2 separate regions of the Homo sapiens genome follow, and region 2 is linked to region 1. Evidence: fine-mapped expression QTL. A gene starts in region 1. The other region holds a variant in brackets. All regions are shown on one strand. Distances are from middle to middle.

Region 1 (5,387 bases):
ATTTTCAAAACTGGTCCCTAAGCTTTCCTGGAAGTTGCTATTGTGAGAAGGTGCTAACAGTCATGGCTCCATCCCTTTAGGGTTCATAATTATTTTCTTTACCTGATTCTGGAATGGATCAAGTTTTGTGCCAACATCTCCTTAGTTGGTGTGGGGAGAGGAGGGTGAAGGATACATTAATTGAAATTTATGATATGCAAGGCATTTATATTATTTTGATGTATTTAAAGACATACATTATTATATTAAGATGTAAGTGGCTCACACCTGTAATTCCCAGCACTTTAGGAGGCCGAGGCGGGCGAATCATGAGGTCAAGAGAGCGAGACCATCCTGGCCAACATGGTGAAACCCCGTCTCTACTAAAAATACAAAAATTGGCTGGGTGTGGTGGCGGGCGCCTGTAGTCCCAGCTACTTGGGAGGCTGAGGTAGGAGAATGGCTTGAACCTGGGAGGCGGAGGTTGCAGTGAGCCAGGATCACGCCACTGCACTCCAGCCCAGGTGACAGAGCAAGACTGCGTCTCAAAAAAAAAGATGTGGAAACACTCCTCCTTGTTTAAGTCATGGTAAAAATGAAGGTTCTCAAAAGGAACTTTTGCTAAGAAACTAGAAAACTAGAAGAAAATTCTCACCCTCTTTTTTGTTCCCCCCCACCCCAAAATAATCTTACAGGACATAGATCTTTGATCGTTACTAAAACTTGGCCATAACTTTGCTTGGTTGACAGAGCTTATGAGGCATCAGTTATTTTTTCCTCCAGTTAACCCCAAACCGCTTTCAGAACCTCAATATTTTGCCTTGTTACTTTTTCCTTTCCCCTTTCAACCTACCCACCTCCTCCTACTCTTTCAGGAAAACAAAACAAAACAAAACAAAACAAAAAAACACAATACTAACCTGGTAAGATAAAATAGGTCACACTTGTTTGAATCAGTGTCTCATCAATACATAAGCATTTTATTTTTAAAGCAACTCTCTGATCAGCTAATACCAACTGGTACCCTTTTCTCATGAAAGGTAGAGTCATTTTCCTACTGCGTCTCCTGGCCTAAGGATGCACTGTGTAGGACATACCACTGGAAATAAGGAAAAAATACCAAGAAGACACTCAGAAGATCAACAGACCCGACCCTTGGGAGAGGTCAAGGCGTATACAATGACCAACTCTTTTCTTCCCTTAGTTTAATCAGTAAAACAAGTGTAATTTATATTTACCGGATCTAGGAAGCACAAAGCACTACTGAATTAGTCTTTTGAAAGCATGGATATTGTTTGAAGACAGAACTAAAAACTGCAAGGAGGATTCTTTCAGAGGGAGGGAATCCTCTACGGAGTCTTGATTTTCTTTTCTAAATAAGGAGTGGGAATGAGGATGAAAGTGTAGATGAAATACAAAAGAAAACACTATCCATGAAAAACAGTATTCTAGGAAATAAAGGCACTGGCAGAGAAAATGGAAATAGAAGACACATCCCTATCTGGAGATAATCTAATAATACATGTACAAATGGACCTCAGTGATAACATATGTAAACCACAGATTATAACTTTACAGAAACATTGATATTAGAATTCCACCCCCCCCTTTTTTTTTTAACTAACAGGCACAAACTTTTCCTGGGTTAGCAAGTTCAACTCTAGTCTTTTTCCTGCTAAGTCAAGTAGAGTGGGACATCAATGAGAAGTTCATTTTAAACCTCTGAAAATCAAACGCCAAAGGCAAGGTTGAGTTCACACGGACTCTTAACTGACTCTAAACCGCAAGGACCTAGTCCTCTTTGTCAATTGCGACCTTGCAAAAAGCTCTCAGTCGTCTGTTGGGATGGTGGTGATGATGGTAAGTGCGATGCTGAGAAGCTTTGCATCTGAGACTCCTTCTTCTTCGGGAGGCTGTTTAAGGGAAGCTTCCCTTCATGGGAGGAGAAGAAAAAAAGAGACATTGCCCTTTGATGGAGAGGAAGGGAAGGAAGAAAAATCTTACTGTTTCTGCCAACATAGAGGAGTCACACAGACTTGGGTTGGACTCTGGACCCCACTTTCCTCATCTGGGGACTCAAGAAATATCTACCAGAGTTTGTCATGAAGGTGAAATCTCATGATGGCTAAAGAGTCTGTTCCTGGCACACAGGAGGCACTCAGAAAGTGTCTTTTCTCCCCAAACAGCGTGGGAGGAAAGAATAGTAAGCGTTTATAGGGGTACAACTCCGACCTCCCAAATCTGACTCCGCAAGACCACCAATTTACCTCCCGGGAGGGTGACTCTGCCCAGCCCCGCGCCTGCCAAGCGCCGCCAAAGCCTCGACGGCGGTCCCCGGTGCCCGCGGGAAGGGCCGCCTCACTCACCTCGGGCGCCAGTAGGTGCAGGCTGGGTCGGCCGGCGGCCCCGCGCTGCCTGTCTCTTATAGAAGCGGGCGTCGGAGCAGCTGGGCAGCGGCCAATGAGAAGGGAGGGCCGGCGGGTGTGGGGCGTGGGCAGTCGCGTCCGCCTGCTCCCAGAGACTTGCACGCCTCAATCTCTGCGTGTATCTGACTGGTGTTTTAATTAAGTGAATGTTAGGCCGTCCTTAACCACACAAGTCTGACTAACACTGAACAATCCAGAGTTGGACATTCTCTCCAAACCAAGATAACGCCTATTATCGACACAATGACCTGCTATAGGACTGCAGTGCTTCTCGCCTGTTGGAGACCAAAGCAAGAATCCCCCCACCTCCCACACCTCTCTGTGCTTCTGGGCTATTTAATAGCCCAGTCCTGACTTATTATTCTCTTGGTGCTTTCCCCCATTCCTTGAGGCAGAGCAACAGTTAGTTGAACTTTTTAGAAGAGAAGTGTTCAGTGCCCTTCTAATTAAAAAAAAATTTTAAGCTGCAAGCAGAGAAGCATTCTATATTAGCAAAAAATCATATTACGTGCTATTGTGAACAACAGGACATAGAGGCAAAAAATTTGGAATAGGTATTTACTGGTTGAGTAGTCAGTCGATTAGCTCCTTATCCCAAAGGACTGTACACATAACGAAGTATATTATAGGACATTCTTTCCTCCAATGTTTGAAAAGTAAGATTTATTGATGTATAATTAACATACAGTAATATTCACCCTGTGAGGTGTACAATTCTGAGTTTTGACAAACATGTATAGTTGTGTAACCACCAAACGATCAAAATATAGAACATTTCTATCACTGCGAGAAATTTCCCTTGTCTAAAGTCTCTCACCTCACACCCAGCCCCTGGCAGCCACTGATCTGATTTCTGTCTCCACAGTTTTGCCTTCTCTGGAATGTCACAGAAATGAAATCATGAAATATGTACAGATTTTTGGCTCCTGGCACTTAACATAATGCTTTTGAGTTTCATGCAGGTATTAGTGATTTGTTCCTTTTCTTTCCTGTTTTCTTTTTTGCTGAGTATGGATGTACTTTAAAGCTCAGGATCTTTACAGCTTTTCTATGCATTTTTCTTTTATCTGTATAATGCTTCTATGAGGTACATATTATTTGTATTTTACAGATACGGAAATTGAAGCACAGGGGTGGCTCTAAGACGTTATTCTGGCACAGGCTAGTAAGTACCATCAATAATCAAGCAAAAGTGTCTGAGTTTAAATCCAGTGCTCTTACTTCAATGCCATAAAAAATACTGGTCAGGGAGAGACCTTTCAGAACCAAGCTGAGGTCAAAGATGTCTTTCCTAAACTGAAAGCCTTTCCTTGTAGATCTGGAACACGATAAGGATGCCCAATTTCACCACTATTATTCAACATAGTACTGGAAGTTCTAGCTAGAGCAATCAGACAAGAGAAGAAATAAAGGGCATCCAAACTGGAAAGGAAGAAGTCAAATTATCCTTGTTTGCAGATGATATGATCCTATATTTGGAAAAACCTAAAGACTCCACCAAAAAACTATTTGAACTGATTAAATAATTCACTAATGTTGCAGGATACAAAATCAACATACAAAAATCAATAGCGTTTCTGTATGCCAATGGTGAACAGTATGAAAAAGAAATTAATCCCATTTACAATAGCCACAAATAAAATAAGTACCTAGGAATTAACCAAAGGAGTGAAAGATCTCTACAATGAAAACTATAAAATACTCATGAAAGAAATTAAAGAGGACACCAAAAGAACAGAAGGCTATTCCAAGTTCATGGATCGGAAGAATCCTTATTGTTCAAATGTCCATGCTACCCAAAGCAATCTACAGATTCAAGGCAATCCCTATCAAAATACCAAAGACTTTCCTTACAGAAATAGAAAAAACAACCCTAAAATTTATATGGAATCACAAAAGACCCAGAACAGCCAAAGCTATCCTGAGCAAAAAGCACAAAACTGGAGGAATCACATTACCTGACTTCAAATTATACTGCAGAGCTACAGTAACCAAAACAGCATGGTTCTGGCATAAAAACAGACACATAGACCAATGGAACAAAATAGAGAACCCAGAAACGGATCCACACACCTACAGTGAACTCATTATTGACAAAGTTGCCAAGAACATACAATGGGGAAAGGACAGTCTCTCCAATAAATGCTGCTGGGAAAACTGGATATCCATCAGAAGAATGAAACTAGACCCCTATCTCTCACCATATATAAAAATCAAATCAAAATGGATTAAAGACTCAAATCTAAGACCTCATACTATGAAACCACTGCAAGAAAACATTGGGGAAACACTCCAGGACATCAGTCTACTCAAAAATGTCTTGAGTGATACCCCACAAGCACAGGCAACCAAAGGAAAAATGATTGCATGGGATCACATCAAGTTAAAAAACTTCTGTACAGCAAAGGAAACAATTGACAAAGAGAAGAGACAACTCACAGAATGGGAGAAAATATTTGCAAAGTACCCATCTGACAAGGGATTAATAACCAGAATATATAAGGAGTTCAAACAGCTCTATAGGAAAAAATTTAATAATCCAATTAAAAATGGTCAAAAGATTTGAATAGACATTTCTCCAAAGAAGACATACAAATGGCAAATAGACATATGAAAAGGTGCTCAACATCCTTGGTCATCAGATAAATGCAAATCAAAACTACAATAACATGTCATCTCACCCTGGTCAGGCAATAACAAATACTAGAGAGGATGTGGAGAAAAGGGAACCCTTGTACACTGTTGGTGGGAATGTATAATAAATTAGTACGACCACTATGAAGAACAGTTTGGACGTGCCTCAAAAAACTGAAAATAGAGCTACCATATGATCCAGCACTCCCACTGCTGGGTATATACCCAAAGGAAGGAAATCAGCGTATTGAAGAGATATCTGCACTCTCATGTTTGTTGCAGCACTGTTCACAATAGTCAAGATTTGAAAACAACCTGTGTTCATCAACAGACGAATGGTTAAAGAAA
Region 2 (5,387 bases), 32 kb after region 1:
TATCTAAGATACATCATAAAAGCTTAGCGATGCAGATTTTGCATTCTATATAGAAATACAAAGCAGTCAGGTTGATGAACAAATAGTATGAGAGGTGAGTGGAGGGCTAGCAGCACCACCACAAGGTTCCCTCCTGCTTCCAGTCTCACCTGTGGTTTTTTTTTTGGTTGCTGGACTGGCCCACAAGACTCAAGACTACATTGGCCCAGGCTCTTGTAAGTTTGACTAGCCCAATGACATAAAAGGAATAAGCATCATTCATAATCAAATTAAAGCTTAAGTTGTGTATCATTTATTTGCTTTTATAAACCTTTAACAGGAAGGCCAGGTGTGGTGACCTGCAAGCCCAGCACTTTGGGAGGCTGAGGCAGGATTGTTTGCAGCCAGGAGTTCAAGACAAGCCTGGGAAACAGTGAGAACCCATCTCTACAAAATCAATAAATAGGCCAGGTGTGGTGGCTCACGCCTGTAATCCCAGCCCACTGAGAGGCCAAGACAGGCGGATCACCTGAGGTCAGGAGTTTCAGACCAGCCTGGCCAATATGGTAAAACCCTGTCTACTAAAAATATAAAAATTAGCTAGGCTAGGCATGGTGGCTCACGCCTGTAATCCTAGCACTTTGGGAGGCAGAGGTGGGCGGATCACAAGGTCAGGAGTTTGAGACAAGTTTGACCAACATGGTGAAACCACGTTTCTACTAAAAATACAGAAATCAGCCGGGCATGGTGGCATGCGCTTGTAATCCCAGCTACTCAGGAAGCTGAGGCAGGAGAATCGCTTGAACCCGGGAGGTGAAGGTTGCAGTGAGCCGCGATTGCGCCACTGCACTCCAGCCTAGGTGACAGAGCAAGACTCCGTCTCAAAAAAAAAAAAAAAAAAGAAAGAAAGAAAGAAAGAAAGAAAACCCACAAAATTAGCCAGGTGTGGTGGTGCGTGCCTGTAATCCCAGCTACTCAGGAGGCTGAAGCAGGAGAATCGCTTGAACCTGGGAGGCGGAGGTTGCAGTGAGCCAGGATCACACCACTGCAATCCAGCCTGGGCAACAGAGTGAGACTCTGTCTCAAAATAAAATAAAAATGAATAAATAAATAAAAATTAGCTGGGCATGGTGGCATGCACCCATAGTCCCAGCTATTTGGGAGACTGAGATAGAAGGATGGCTTTAGCCCAGGAGTTTGAGGCTGCAGTAACCTATGAGTGTGCCACTACACTCTGGCCTGGGCAACAGAGCAAGACCTTGTCTCTGAAAAAAAAAAAAAAAAAAGTATAATGGAACCCCATGTAATTGTCACCCAGCTTCAGCAACTCCAATTCGCAGCCAGTCTTGTTTCATCTACTCCATTAACTTACTTCTTTCCCTCTGCCCCAGACTAATTTGAAGCAAATCCAAGACATCATACTATTTCACTATAAATATATAACTTTTAATAATGGTTCTTGGATCTCAAACCAGCAACAAAAAGAAAACATATTCTATTCAGGATGCTGAGGCAGGAGGATTGCTTCAGCTCAGGAGTTTGAAACCAGTCTTAGCAAGAATATAGTGAGATCCGTATCTCCAAAAAAAAAAAAAAAAAAATAGGAAAGAAAAATATGGTATGGTTAAGAGGGGCATTTGCCTATTTTCCCTTTCTTAAAACTTCTGACAGGAGCATGGAGGAAACTGAAGTTCCAAAGTGGTAAAAGAGAACACATGCTCAAGTAGAATAAATAATTCAGTCCTAAATTAATATGGACCTATTTCTTCTTTTTTAAAAAGGCTATTGATTAGGTCATAAAGAATATTAATTAAAAAAGAATATTAGTTGAAGAAATAGAATACTAGAGTTACAGATTATCAGCTTCACAGCTAGCTCAGACACAGCATCATTGCCCAGTCCTGAAGAACAGATAATGGTGTTCAATATTTCATACACTTAAGATTTTCTGAACCCCTAATAGAGGTTGTTTTTTAATGCTTATAGTCGGTTTCTACATGTGCTTCACCAAAAAAAAAAGTATATCAGGCTGAGAGGTGGCTCTTAAACTTTTTCCCACTTACATACCAAAATTATTCAGTAACTAATTCAAAGCAAGGCAACAGAAAATACTAAA[C/G]ATAGAGTGGGGAAACTCTTGATCTGGAAAGCTGAACCCACCAAGAAAACAACAGTTTAGCTATATCCCATTTGCTGTAGGGGATAAAATATCTTAAAAACAAAACAAAACAAAACAAAACAAAAACAAAAACAGTGGAAGGAAACCATGCCTTCTTTCTTAGTGGTTTAGGTACTTAAAATATCAAACTCAATATAACAAATGCTAACTCAAGCTCATTTTGCATTTTTCCTCTTCCCTGCCAAACAGTATAGGGAAAAAAATGAGTTTCCATTTCATTTGTGTATATAATTTCATCTGTATATAAAATTTCATATTTATGGTTCTGGAGAAAGCACCATTTCAAAATATCACTGCAACTGATTCAAGCACTAAATCTTGTGAGTGAATTCTTCAGAACATGCAGCATTAAAAATGCTTTAACACTGGTCACTTAAAAGTATCATAATTTATAGATATAGGATGTTTTCAAACATACCAAAGTACTATGAAAATATGTACCAAAACTCATAATGCTAACAATAAAGAAGTAACAAAGTAAACAGTGTAGGTCCAAGACAGAAATGTGAGCAGAAAATAAATTGGACACTCCTTGCCTTCCCACTACTATCCTTTCTCCTCCTCCCTCTGTAATTTGCCATTTTTGTGGAACACTCCTTCAGGTACATAAGGTCCTTGTGCTTCCCGTTTTAAAACACGCTCTCAGAAGGCTGGGCGTGGTGGCTCACGCCTGTAATCCCAGCACTTTGGGAGGCCGAGGCGGGCGGATCATGAAGTCAGGTCGAGACCATCCTGGCTAACACGGTGAAACCCCGTCTCTACTAAAAATATTTAAAAAATTAGCTGGGCGTGGTGGCTGGTGCCTGTAGTCCCAGCTACTCGAGAGGCTGAGCCAGGAGAATGGCGTGAACCCGGGAGGCGGAGCTTGCAGTGAGCCGAGATCCCGCCACTGCACTCCAGCCTGGGCGATAGAGCAAGACTCCGTCTCAAAAAAAAAGAAAAAAAATTAAAAACAAACAAACAAAAAAACAACAAAAAACATGCTCTCAGAAAAAAAGTGAAATTCATATGCACTGAGGTAAACATAACTAATAACCTCAAGTATTATTCTTAATCAGTGTTTGCATCTTAAGCTTAAACTTAAACAAAAAAAAAACCAAGAGTGGAATTTTCGTGTCAGCTAGCAGGTAGGAGTGATTTCATCAGTGCCTTTGAAATCTCATACTGAATATAGTCAATTCAGTCTACCAATAAGGTCAGCACTGAGGACATGCGAATATACATACAGTGTAGTATATATAAACCTACCAATGAGATTTCACCTGTAAGATTTTACTTTTATGTTCCAGTTCTTTTCAGCAGTGACACTTCCAACCATAAACCTACCTCTAAACTGGAAATCATATTATCTCTTACCAATAAGATTACTGTTTTTATCACCAAAAATCTGGTTTTATCACCAAAAATCTCTCAAGGAAAGAAAACAAAGTATGAGGCAAGACCAATGCTTTAAAGCCAAAAAACTGATATAAATTGGGAAGGGGCTATACCAAAAGTGAGGTTCAGAAAGCTGGCTTTGTTATTCCTAACAGATATTTTCTTAAAAATCTATTAAAAAGCACCCCCCCAACCCAGCCAAACACACATAAAGACTTGGTAGGAAAAAGCCCCTTCTCTTTCTCCCTTTTTCTTCCTGAATGTGGATAAAGGCCCAGAGATGGCACAGCCCCCTTAACCACAAGGCAATAAACATGAACGCAAAGGCCTACCTGGCAGACCACGTGAAGGGTGAAAGGAGCCACCTCATTACATCTGGATTTTTGCATAAGGTTCCTGAAAGAGATCAGATTCAGCTGCTACAGGAGGGTTTCTGTTACTGCAGCTGAATATACTTAACAGTGGATACAAAGACGTAATTCTCACTTAAAAAAATCAAATTAGGCTGGGCACGGTGGCTCACGCCTGTAATCCCAGCACTTTGGGAGGCCAAGGCGGGCAGATCACGAGGTCAGATCGAGACCATCCTGGCTAACACAGTGAAACCCTGTCTCTACTAAAAATACAAAAAATTAGCCAGGCGTGGTGGCGGGCACCTGTGGTCCCAGTTACTCGGGAGGCTGAGGCAGGAGAATGGCATAAACCCAGGAGGCGGAGCTTGCAGTGAGCTGAGATCGCACCACTGCACTTCAGCCTGGGCGACAGAGTGAGACTCTGTCTCAAAACAAACAAACAAACAAACAAAATTAACAGCTATGAAGAAAATCAACACTGATCTCGCACATATCCTAAAAAGAACCTCAATGATAAGCTTACATTTTTGCTTTCCTCAACTGAGGATGATAAATATCACATAAAAAGAGGGGTGACAGTGGTGAAACCTCAGATTCCAAAGTCAAAAAAAGTGAGACAAGTCTAGGACAGAAAAATGTTAACACCAGACAATTATGGTCTAATATGGGCTTTAGTTAATATTTCCAATAAGTCAATTTCAACTGTCAGTGAGAAAAATAAAGTTTATTTCTTGTACAGAAGTAATTCCAATTCAGGTTTTAAGTCTGAACCTTCAAACTTGGGAAGTTTTTTTCCAAGTCATCAGCAAGCGCCTTATCAACTTCACGTAGGATTTTAATAAAATCTTCCACCTGTGAGTCAAACAAACAAACAAAAATCAAACACAGAAGAGAAAAACGTGCTTTAAGGTACTGATTGCTCTACCTGTGGTTTCTAAATGGTCCAATGGAAAAGAAATGCTGGCAGATCTCCAGATGATAGTAACAGTACTTCCTAAGCAGTCTTCTAAATCATTCTCAAGGAAATGACTATGCTTTCCCATTCCGTTTTACTCTTGAGCTAGTACTTCTCCCCCCGCCTCTTCTTTACAGTCTGTTCCCACATTCTGTCCTTCATTTTCCTGAAAAAGTTCCTATTTTGAAATCTGATTCTAATGGTAGGAAATGTGATGTCATTTGAAGAACCATAAAAACCTACTGACTATTCCCAAGAATCTGATTTTGGCTTAATATAGATGTTATCTACTTCATAACAGAAAGGAGTACTATAAATTCAGAGCTTATTTTTTTCCTCTTAGAATTGTTACTCCCAATACTATTATGAATTTTCCAGTAGTCATCTTTTTTTCCCTCAACTTTTATTGTAGACTCAGGGGAGTCTAAATGTGCAGGTTTGTTATAAAGGTATATTACATGATGCCGAGGTTTGAGGCACAGATGAACCTGTTACCCAGGCAGTGAGCTTAGTACCCAATAGGTAGTTTTTCAGCCCTTGCCCTCCC

The links. PIP is the estimated chance that this variant, and not a neighbour inherited with it, causes the effect.
Region 2: its variant is the best candidate, but not a certain one, in a credible set for the expression of TPH1 in cerebellar hemisphere (GTEx, PIP 0.88).

What each region holds. Positions count from the first base shown.
Region 1 is chr11:18,043,896-18,049,282 of GRCh38, forward strand. TPH1 (tryptophan hydroxylase 1) reads right to left here and starts at 2,374. Exons shown (of 11, transcript NM_004179.3): 1 at 2,346-2,374.
Region 2 is chr11:18,075,755-18,081,141 of GRCh38, forward strand. SAAL1 (serum amyloid A like 1) reads right to left here. Exons shown (of 12, transcript NM_138421.3): 12 at 4,538-4,737. The coding sequence ends at 4,645. Among named protein-coding and RNA genes, the nearest start is that of SAAL1, 28 kb to the right of the region's middle. The variant C/G (reference allele first, on the strand shown) is at 2,096.